Homo sapiens: one gene and its partner. The protein of the gene in region 1 interacts with the protein of each later gene in a pairwise test. Each region holds a gene or a part of one and is shown in the gene's direction. Other genes may lie near its edges.

What was found. The genes of interacting proteins can lie anywhere in the genome.
Region 2: the proteins of KHDRBS3 (region 1) and DMRT3 interact in binary tests that used the Homo sapiens proteins (3 or more experiments, as listed by UniProt).

Annotation. Positions count from the first base shown.
Region 1 is NC_000008.11:135,642,429-135,648,130, forward strand, and holds the end of KHDRBS3 (KH domain-containing, RNA-binding, signal transduction-associated protein 3), read left to right. Parts: intron 1-2,630; coding exon 2,631-2,689; intron 2,690-4,564; coding exon 4,565-4,656; coding exon of another isoform or gene 4,657-4,669; 3' UTR 4,670-5,182; downstream 5,183-5,702. UniProt on the Homo sapiens protein: RNA-binding protein that plays a role in the regulation of alternative splicing and influences mRNA splice site selection and exon inclusion. Binds preferentially to the 5'-[AU]UAAA-3' motif in vitro.
Region 2 is NC_000009.12:986,608-992,232, forward strand, and holds the end of DMRT3 (doublesex- and mab-3-related transcription factor 3), read left to right. Parts: intron 1-3,433; coding exon 3,434-4,398; 3' UTR 4,399-5,125; downstream 5,126-5,625. UniProt on the Homo sapiens protein: Probable transcription factor that plays a role in configuring the spinal circuits controlling stride in vertebrates.

The DNA of each region.
Region 1 (5,702 bases):
ACAATAGTTGCATTCCTCTCACACTCGTTTTTCTTCTAAATTTTTTTAGGAATGCCAGCCCTTAATTTGAAGACCATTTTTTAAAACTCTGTGGCTACATGTACCTCTGTGGAAAAATTGCACATTGCTACTTGGTATATTAGGTCAGCTGTAGTAGTGACTATTCTGTAATGTGTTAAGCCAGCGGAGCTTAACACAGCCCATTTCAGAGAGCTTATTTTATACAGAGAGCTCAAATCATAACCTCCGTGTTACACCGTATTTAATTAGCTTGTAAGGATATGATTAAGCCAGGATAACAAGGTGGGGCCTATATTCTATGTGTGGAAGAAGTATTCTAAGGAATATTCCGGTCCAGGCATTTGTCTTTTTTTTTTTTTTCTGTGATGGAGTCTCGCTCTGTCGCCAGGCTGGAGTGCAGTGGCACAATCTCAGCTCACTGCAACGTCCGCCTCCTGGGTTCAAGCAGTTCCCCTGCCTCAGCATCCCAAGTAGCTGGGACTACAGACGTCACCACACCCAGCTAATTTTTATATACTTTTTTTTAGTAGAGACAGGGTTTCACCATGTTGGCCAGGATGGTCTCGATCTTCTGACCTCGTGATCCGCCCGCCTCAGCCTCCCAAAGTGCTGAGATTACAGGCATGAGCCACCGCGCCTGGCCTGGTCCAGGCATTTTTCATCAATACTTACTATATTTGATTGAACTGCTTGTTGACACCTAGATTTTCCAACCTGTTTCCTGCCTCTGCTTTGCATATTCTGTTTCTTCTGCCTGGAAGACCCTTGCTGCCATTGCCTCTGTCCATTCCTTCTCCACCTGTCTTCACCTTCACCCTCAGAACACTGTGCAAGCACTGCATGCTCCAAGCCATTCATGACACACTACACTAGAGTGATGGAGGTGCCCCTTCTCCGTATACCCACTTAACATATGTAACGTGAGGGTCTCCTCCAGGCCAAAAGAATGAGAACCAGGGCATGCTGTCGTGGGAAACCAACCTCACTCAGGGATACCAGCAAGGTTCTCTTTGGAAGTGGCATTTAGGTTAAGGGCTTGAGTTGGAAATAGCCTGGAGGACAGGAGAGAAGGGCCTTCTGGCAGAAAGAGTAGCAAATATAAAAACTCATGCCCACATGTTTGAGATAAAAAGGAACATAGCTCCATTGCTTACACTTTTCTCATAGGAATGGCCATGCTGTGCCGTAGTCATTAAATGTGATGATTAGTCTCTGGTGTCATTTTCCTGAGAAAGAAAACGTGGGGGAAAAACTCCGTGTGGTTGTGACCACAAGTCTGGCCTGTGTAGTCACAGAGATTCAGTTATACTGTTCTCCATGCAATTTAGCCTGGCTTCTTAGCTCTTCTGGTCTGCAGTATCCTTATCTGTCAAATGGGTATGGCAGTTTTACTATCCGAGGCCGGGGGTGATGTGGGATCTCAGCGGCTGGTGTTCAGTAGACATTCACAGCAAGCATCTGTGCTCCTCAAACTGTGACTTCCTGAGGTGTTAAACATCTGAGCTGGATCATTTTCCATTTTGATTAGAAACCTCTTGATTGTATGAAATTGGAAGAATGGGGATGTTTATTTCCATGACAGTCTAAGATAACAAATTCAGGATGGTGGTTTCCCTACAAAATGGAGTGGGAAAGAGGAAAGCCTGAGAGGGTACATGGAAACTCTTTCTCAAATACTCAGAATGGTTATGGCTGAGTAATCTAGACTTTTCACAAGTCTATTCCTGTAAAAAATTATTCCTAGTTCAAATACATTGTATATATGTAGGCTGTTTTGCATCATCTGCAAAATGGCAGTGAGAACTCTTCCCTCTTGCTGTCAGTGATGGCTCTTTCCTCGTGCTCTCTCAAGGATGTTGTACATTGGAACGTGGATTTGCCTGTACTTTGAAAAGATCCTTGGCCTCATGTAACCAGACTTGTGACTGGACTGCAGAGATCCATTTCCCTGCTCTCCTGTCCCATGTGGCCATGGCTGCTGAGTCCTCTTTTCCCAGCAGCTTCCGGATGGTGATGCAACAGTGCCGGTCAAAGAAAACATTTCATCTGGGCATTTGTTTTTAATGTACTATAAAGTACAGCACCCACAATTCATGCAGCACCGGGTTCTCTGGTAGACGAGGGTGTAAGAAGAAATAAAGTCTTTGCCTTCTGTAAACATCCCATCTATTGGAAAGGAGGTGTTTACCTCCTCCCCCACTCCCACAGTGCCTTGCACAGGCCCAGCCCTAGCTCTTGGCACACTGGGCTAGAATTGTCCACACACATCCTCCCTCTCCGCAGACTCCCAGTCTTCCCAGGTCAGGTGCTGTCTTTGTATTCCCTCGTGCACTTTTAGGCACTTACTGTGTGTTGCGTGGCCAATTGTTGTGGTTAAAATGTCGAAACATATTTATTATGTATTAAAATTAGGGAGCTAGACAAGGGTCCTTTGATAATCCCAAAGTTGACACTTCTGCTTTAGAACTCTGTGATCTCGGTGGGAATTTCTTTGAATTTTCAGTCTTGCCCTTCATTAGTTGTCTTTAAGTTTTACAATACGTTATTGAATACTGTTGAAACTCACAGCCAGATGATTTTGTCCTTTGTTTTGTTTTGATCACTTGCAGTGGTGCTGATTACTATGATTACGGACATGGACTCAGTGAGGAGACTTATGATTCCTACGGTGAGTGACTGGCCAGAGCATGTGAAGAGAGGGAGGAGAGATGGCCGTAGAAAGACCTTAAAGATATTAATGGGAAGAGAATAAGGACATTTGGACTCTGAAACAGCAGCTTCCTGTCAATTCATTTGTGCATGTCTAGCTATTTTTAGGGCTCCTTTATTATATAAATATTTGAAGAGGACTAAAGACTTGCTGAAGATTGCATGAATCCAGATTCTGAACTTAAATTTTATGTTTGAGTTGGTCGCCGTGTGCTGATTTTCTCACAGAGTAGTTTTTCAAACTTCAGACACTTGATAGCTGGGTCTTTTTGAAGTGTCTTTGTTTCCTGACAGTGAAGGGAAATGAAGCAATTGAGACTACAGCTCTAAAGTGATTCTCCCACCTTCATCTTTATGTTTTAATTCATTTCCAATCTCAAACCCTCTGAAAAAAATTACACTGGGAGTCATTTCATAAAGGTTACAAAAGCACTGAGCCAAGGAGGAGATACAGGGTCTGTAAGCTTTACAAAGGGCAGCAGCTAAACCCCTCTTAATTCAGTGGAGCTGGTAGAGATGCTGGGGACTTCATGTCCAAAGTCTCACTATGCAGAACGATGACAGGTTTAATAATTAAAAGAATTGGCGGCAGCAACATAATGGTAGTAAGAAGAGCCCTTGCCGCAGGGCAAGGAGATCAGAGAACATGAAGCTTCAATCAGTTGCAAAGCTCTGATGAATCCCTGGTACCCGGTGCAAGTATATCAGGATTGTGGTTAATGGATGTTAGGACATTTCTCTTAACAGAACGGAAAAACCATTTTCCGGCGTTAAACCTTTTGAAGTGCATTTTGTTGTATCACCTGCCTGAAGCTGTGATGGCTGCACCTTGGATTTTTTTTTTTTTTTTTTTTTTTTTTTTTTGTTATCCGTAACAAACACTTAAGAGAAATATGTTGGTTTGCTGAATGCAGGCTACCTAAATTGATGCAAGTTAGCTTGAGGGAGTGACGTTGATTGCATGTTTTGTATCAAAAGAAGAGGTCATTTTAAGCATTTTTCCTTCACAGCTTTTTAAATTGGTCTCTGTGGACACATGGCTTTTAAATTGCTGTATGTTGCAGCAGGGATGTTAACTGTTTGATGTCCAAGACTTATAGATAACTCATTAAAAGTTATCTTCAGGCTGAACAGGTGTTTAATTTCAGGAGATAAAGATGATAGAATGTCCCTGGTTATTAATACCTTTGTTCAGTACGGATTTAGCATTATGATGAATGAAATCTGACATTATGTCGTTAAATTCATTTCATATTCATGAAGTGCTATTGAGAAGTGAAGTTCAACCCAATGCAACTTTCCTTCAGTCTTTCCGTGAAAGCGCCTGTGAAAAATGAGGTCATATTTCCCTTTCTCAGTCTGCCCCTTCCCGTTTTGCTCTCCGGTTTTCTTCTTTGTCTTCACAGATGTTTACCTATGTTTTTTCTTTGTTTTTGCTGTTGGAAGACATCTAAGTGATCCTTTTCCCATTCTCTTTTTCACTCATAAATGTCCTGATGTTTAGCAAAAGGCAGTTCTCTTTGCTACTTGAGCTTGTAAACTGTTGTTAAATGAGTAACCAAAAGGAAAGTCCTTGCGAAGTTGGTTACCATTTCAGATACAAGAACCGTTTATCTTCCCACGCTGACGAATTTTGCGAGTGAGATGATTATTTTTCCTTGTGTTTGTAATTTATTTAAGTAAATTCCTTGTTTGTTTTTCTTTTCAGTACACCAGGGGTATATATTTTCAATATGACATGTACCTTTGGTTCAGGGCTAAGTTAGAGTCTGAAAAATGAAGCCTGTGGGATTCATGGCAGTGATCTAATTGTGATTCATCTTACTGATTGTAGGGCAAGAAGAGTGGACTAACTCAAGACACAAGGCACCTTCAGCGAGGACAGCAAAGGGCGTCTACAGAGACCAGCCATATGGCAGATACTGATTGTACTGTCTGATGTTGTGAAATAGCCAATCTCCACCAGTCCTGTATACTGTTCAAAGTAATTTTTTTCTATGAACAATCCCTTTTTAAATAAATCAGAATGCTTAAAATCTGAATGGATGGAACTTAAAACTACTTTGTTGAAACATCAACCTGGGCAGAAAAAAAAAAAAAAAGACATGTAAAATTTTGTTATTTCCAGTCTGTATATGAAAAAATAGGTCATCAAAAGGAAAAAAAATAACTTTGATTAACTAGTGTTAAACAAAAAATAGGTTTACTAAATATGTTAATCTATTCTTTTAACATAAGCCTCACCTTTCATTTTAAAGGTTTCCATAGAATTTAGTTATTTTATCTTTCAGCCATATGCTAGTTTTTTTTTCTCTTGCCAACATGCGTAAAAAGGGAAGCCAATTACAAGTGCAAATAATGTGGTATTCTTTTGTAACTCAAGTCTTGAAATGTTCTGTAGTGTTAAGCAAAGTCTCCTCTTGCTTGATACTAAATAAACTTTTGAAAGAAATTTTGTGTGTGTGAGCTAACAATTTCATGGGTTTTTTTTTATTTAAAAAGGCCTTCATAAATAGTTGTAAACAGGGAAAGAATTCATTTAACAATGCTTGTCATAAAAGGGTCACACTAAACATTGTACAACTTATTTTAAAAATGGTATAAAATTAAATGTACCATTATATACTCACCATAGATTTAAATGCTGTTTAAAGAGTCCAAATGGTATCGAGCTGCTTGAGTGGCACGTTAAACTACGCAAAACCAAATCTTGTTTAAAAACTGGTTTTAAAATAACTACTGGATTTTCTGAAAAAGATGTGATCAGTTTTCATCTTGTTGAGCGTTTTTTCACTAGTGCAACTTTGGATTTTTTATGAGAATTTTGGTACCTTAATGAACACCTCGCTCCATGCTGGAAGCACTAAGCACAAAGCTTTTAAAGACTTTCTGGCTTGACTAATTGAGGTCGCACTCGCCAAGGCTGAGGATGTGTAACCCTTAAACGGTCTTCATTTTCAAAGGTAAATAAA
Region 2 (5,625 bases), on another chromosome or scaffold:
GCTGGCCGGGCGTGGTGGCTGACTCCTGTAATCCCAGCACTTTGGGAGGCTGAGGCGGGTGGATCATGAGGTCAGGAGTTCGAGAGGAGCCTGGCCAACATAGTGAAACCCTGTCTCTACTACAAATACAAAAATTAGCTGGGTGTGGTGGCACACACCTGTAGTCCCAGCTATTCGGGAGGCTGACGCGGGAGAATCACTTGAACCCAGGAGGCAGAGTTTCCAGTGAGCCGAGACCATGCCACTGCACTCCAGCCTGGGTGACAGAGTGAGACTCTGTCTCAAAAAAAAAAAAAAAGTTGAGCTTTGAGCTTTCCAGCTGTGCCTATGTACGCTTTATTCCCAAGAAGGACTAGTTGTTTCTCTTGCTTAAAAAAATCTCTTCATTCTCTATATTACTATGACACTGTGTGGCATATATTTTTCTTTTTTTATTGTGGTAAAGTATATATAACATAAAGTTTACAATTTTAACCATTTTTAGGGGCACAATTCAGTGGCATTTATTCAAAATGTTGTGCAACCATCACCACCATCCATCTTCAGAACCTTTTCATCATTCCAGACGGAAACTCCATACCCATGAAACAATAACTCCCCATTCCCTTTTCCTCCAGCCCCTGACAACCACCACACTACTTTCTCTCTGAATTTCCCTATTCTTGGTATCGAATATAAGTAGAGTCATACAGTATTTGTCCTTTTGTGTCTGGCTTATTTCACTTAGCCTAATGTTCTCAAGGTTCATCCATGTTATAGCATGTATTGGAATTCCATTCCTTTTTAAGGCTGAATAATATCCCACTGTGTGTGTGTGTGTGTGTGTGTGTGTGTGTGTGTGTGTGTGTGTACACCACGTTTTATACATTCATGCACTGATGGACATTTGGGTTGCTTTCACCTTTTGGCTATTGTGAATGCTGCTGCCATGAACATTGGTATACAATGTGTGTCATATTTGAGGCTTAGCAAATGCTGCCAGGCCCTGTTTGCTTCTTCTCCTGCATGTGTGTCTTATTTCCCCAGCTAGAAGATAAGGTCCATAAGCTAGGTGTGGGTCTTACACTTCTTGGTGTTTTTCATCCTTTATTCTGTTTCTCCCAGTATCGTGCAGAAATATAAATACTTGGTGCTGATAATTACGCTAAAATTAAAAAATAAGGAAACTGTTTAGAAGTACATAGTATTTTAAAGAAGTACTTTATGTCCATATTTACATGGGGAGAGTATTTGACTTGTTTTTCCAATTTCTAAAAGTGATAGTATATTAATATGCTATCACTTTTCAAGTGTTTAATAATTTTCAAATGTTTAATAATAGAGTAACAGCCAAGAAGTATGTATGGGTCATGAGTCAGGAACATTTAAATAGATCTAGCTGATTATAAAGTAAATCTATAGAAGCCTTTTTGTTGCTGTTTTTCTCTTTTGAATCAAGGACATGAGTTCAAATACCACATTAACTCAAGAGGTAAAAGCTGTGTCCCCCATCCTAAGAAGTTGTAGGAGAGAATATGTCAAATTTCTCTTACAAAAATAGAGTCATTCTACAGTAGAGTCTTTCTATAGAGTCATTATATAAAGTGAAGATGGCTTCATATGTATGTGACGCAAATGAACCTCTCATTGGAAACCTTATATTTTATATTAAAAAAGAAGCAGTTTAATTAAAATGCAAATTTGGGATAAGTATGAATTCCTATCAGATGTATGTTGACACTTGCACTGAGGTAATTGAAGAGTGTTTTAAAGTGTATTTACTTATGTTTGCCACATATTTATTGCTTTGTTAAAGGCCAAAGTTTTGGTTTTTGGTTACATCTGAGATACATCCTGTATTAGAAGAATGTTTCTAAGTAGGCCTTTAAGGCTTTTAAAATAAATAACAAGTGTAGGAGAAGATGGTTTCTAGAAGGTGCTTTGATGAAATTTCACAAAGTTTTGTTTTTTGGTTACACTTAAGATACACCTGTATTAGAAGAATGTTCATAAGTAGGCCCTTAAGGCTTTTAAAATGACAAGTGTAGGAGAAGATTGTTTCTAGAGGGTGCTTTGATGAAATTTCACCGGCTGGCTATCTGTATATAATCAGGTGTGCCCACAGAGAAGGCAACAATGAAGCTATTCAGGCAGGGCAGCAGAAAACACAGGCAAAGCAATTGTTTACAACTCAACAACTGGGTCATTAGGAATTTTCATCTTTCGATCAGCTACCCTGGCTTTGAGTAGCCACAGCCAGCGCGTGTTTCAAAAAAGGACAAAACTCTATTTGCAAATAGCTTGCTACTAAAAAATATGTTTCTTTATTATAAAGTCCTGTTGGAATTTACTACTGCAAAGCAAACCACTCTGACTTACTCTTTTCTGTGTGCTTAGCCCTGCAATATTACCAGCTGTTAAGTAAAAATGTTCTTAGGTCAAGATGTTAAATTTGCAACTGGTTTACTTTATCGCAAGTCTCTGCTTTATTTGGGAAGCCTTTTTTTCCCTCCTTCTTCTTTTCATATAATATAAAAAGGTATCTTCAAATTTCACTGGCTTTAAAAAAAGGTATCTTCAAGTCCTTTCCATGAACTGTACCAGCAAAACAGTTCATGCACAGGTATCTGCCTCGTGCCACCCGTGGCGGTGGAGTGTGATGCGTTGTTTCATTGATGGATAATAATGCCCCCGTGCAATTTAACAAACCCTTTCTAGCCACTTCCTTTTTTCCTCTCCAGCAACTTATCCTGCCATCCGGAATTCATAGCTGGTTTCGTTTGCTTTCTAGTACAAGTTATTGGCAACCAAGTTTGCCAATGCCTCAAGTGGCTTCTTATGAAAGATTTCAATGGATAGAGGTATCTTTCACTTCAGCAATTGAATTAGCTAGCTATTGTATATGGTAACCTGATGCAACTTACTGATTGGTTCATAAGACATATTTAACACAAAATCAGCCTATGGGAAAATAGATTTCAGATATTAAAATTCCCTGTGGGTATCTGGATGGTACTATCCCTAGATAACAGCTGGGGACCTTATTTGCAGAAGAGGAGCCGGAAGACAAGCTGAGCTGATTTTCCTGTTTCTCCCTGAGCTTTGCTCTTCCAGGAGTCCCCCACCCCTCCTCCCAAAGAGGCTCTCTATTGAGATTGTTACTGCTATGAAAGCCATATGTTACAGGTTCATGTAGCCATTCTATGTTGAAGGCAAGCTTCCTTGCACAAAGCATTCCAGGAAGCCACTCTGATTTCTAGATCTTTATTTACAGGGTTTTTGTTTCATTTGCCAGTGATATAGTTCGAATTTTTTTAAAAAGGCTTGTAGTATATTATGACCCATTGAGATGCATTTGCTCTTCCAAAAAGCACGTGTACAGGTCTCTTCTGAGCACATCTGCTCCTCTTTATGCACACCAGGAAAAGATTAACTCAGCTGTTCTGTTTTCCAGATTTGACTGAAGAACGACTTGGAGACGGCAAGTCGGCAGACAATACAGAGGTCTTCAGTGACAAAGACACTGACCAGAGGAGTTCCCCAGATGTGGCAAAGAGTAAGGGCTGCTTCACCCCTGAGAGCCCTGAGATAGTGTCCGTGGAGGAAGGGGGATACGCTGTCCAGAAAAACGGAGGCAACCCCGAGAGCCGCCCTGACAGCCCCAAGTGTCACGCGGAGCAGAATCACCTCCTGATTGAGGGCCCCTCGGGGACTGTTTCTCTGCCCTTCAGCTTGAAAGCCAACAGACCGCCGCTTGAAGTGTTAAAAAAGATATTCCCCAACCAGAAGCCAACGGTGCTTGAGCTCATCCTCAAGGGCTGTGGCGGGGACCTGGTGAGCGCCGTGGAAGTCCTTCTGTCCAGCCGATCCTCAGTCACGGGAGCAGAGCGAACTTCCGCAGAACCTGAGAGTCTAGCGTTGCCCTCCAATGGGCACATCTTTGAACACACCTTGAGCTCCTACCCCATCTCGTCTTCCAAATGGTCTGTGGGATCAGCCTTTCGAGTCCCAGACACGTTGAGGTTTTCTGCCGACTCTAGCAACGTTGTCCCCAGTCCCTTGGCTGGGCCTCTGCAGCCCCCTTTCCCCCAGCCACCCCGGTACCCGCTGATGCTGAGGAATACTTTGGCGAGAAGCCAGTCGAGCCCCTTTTTGCCCAATGATGTCACCCTGTGGAACACCATGACGCTGCAGCAGCAGTATCAGCTGAGGTCCCAGTATGTCAGTCCTTTCCCCAGTAACTCTACCAGCGTCTTCAGAAGCTCGCCCGTCCTTCCTGCCCGCGCCACGGAAGACCCTCGGATTTCCATCCCTGATGATGGGTGTCCATTTGTGTCAAAGCAGTCCATTTACACCGAGGACGACTATGACGAGAGGTCTGACTCCTCAGACTCTAGAACACTCAACACATCATCTTAAAGTGGTGCTGGATGGGTGGTGGCCAGGTGACATTTTCTGTGCGTTTTGACCCTGAGGCATCTGAGGAGAGGCCACATCTTGTGTATGCCCTTTCCTTCTGTTTGACAAAGTGACTGTGCTTGATTCTATACATTAGCAATAAAAACATAACTTATTTAACTTCTTGCACTTCACTGGAAAATGCCAAATAGCTCTGTTCTGTGGCTTTAGTGCTGAATGTTTATTGTAAAAGAGAGTCTAATGTTAAGAATAGTCTTGGGAAGGCTGGGTCCGTGGAAGATTTATTTGGGGATGTAAAGCTGAAGGTCAGCCTTGCACCTAAACCCAACCTGGAATGTTAAATGAAATAATATACTTGAATGCAATTTTGTAAAAGTGGATTCCTCAGGATATGTGAAACCTAAAGGAAGTGGTTCTGTTGCAAATGGACTATAAACAGGGACATTATATTCTTACACTAAAAATCCTTGCATTTTAAAGAGAGATGCACTTAAGAATAGAGTGAACTGCTCATATGCTTATTTAAGCTTGGACAGTTTTCAGAGACAAACCCCATTAAGAATTACTCTTTTCACATGGCTGAATCGAAACATGTGTAATGTCAATGTAAAACCAATCACAGCTGTGAACTGCATGAAATGTATTGTGAAACGAACACAAGATTAAGCTTTGTCAGGTTAATGTAGCATGTTAAGGACTCTAGAAAAAAATAAACTAAGGAGACGAGCGTGGTTTATGTCATTTCTACTTGTGGAAAGAGGATCTCTAAAAATAGAAACTTGATGTAAAAATGACTTTTACTAACGCATGGGCCAGGAATCAAATTATCAGTTAAATGAGACATTCCTGAGAAATATGAATGGCAAAGTTTTAGGGTTGCATTCAGAAAGATAATTTGTTCAAAATGGAGTTAATTCTCTCCATCCATTCACTTATTCAACAGATACTTACTGAGTGCCTACTATGTGTAAGAGAATGTGCTTTCCATGTATTGTCCAAGTTACCTACCCGTGAGTCCTAGATAAGCAGATATTTTAGTGGAGAATCCCATTGAAAACAAAGTAAAAATGGAAAACTCCCAACAATGTATAGTTGAGTGTGGGAAGCAAGGAAAGTGCTTAGCCCAGTACCTGACATAGGAAGTATGCAGTCCATGAAAACTACTGCTTCTATTAATGAAATTCAGTAGCCTTGCATTCAGAATATAGACGTGCATTCCTTCATTCT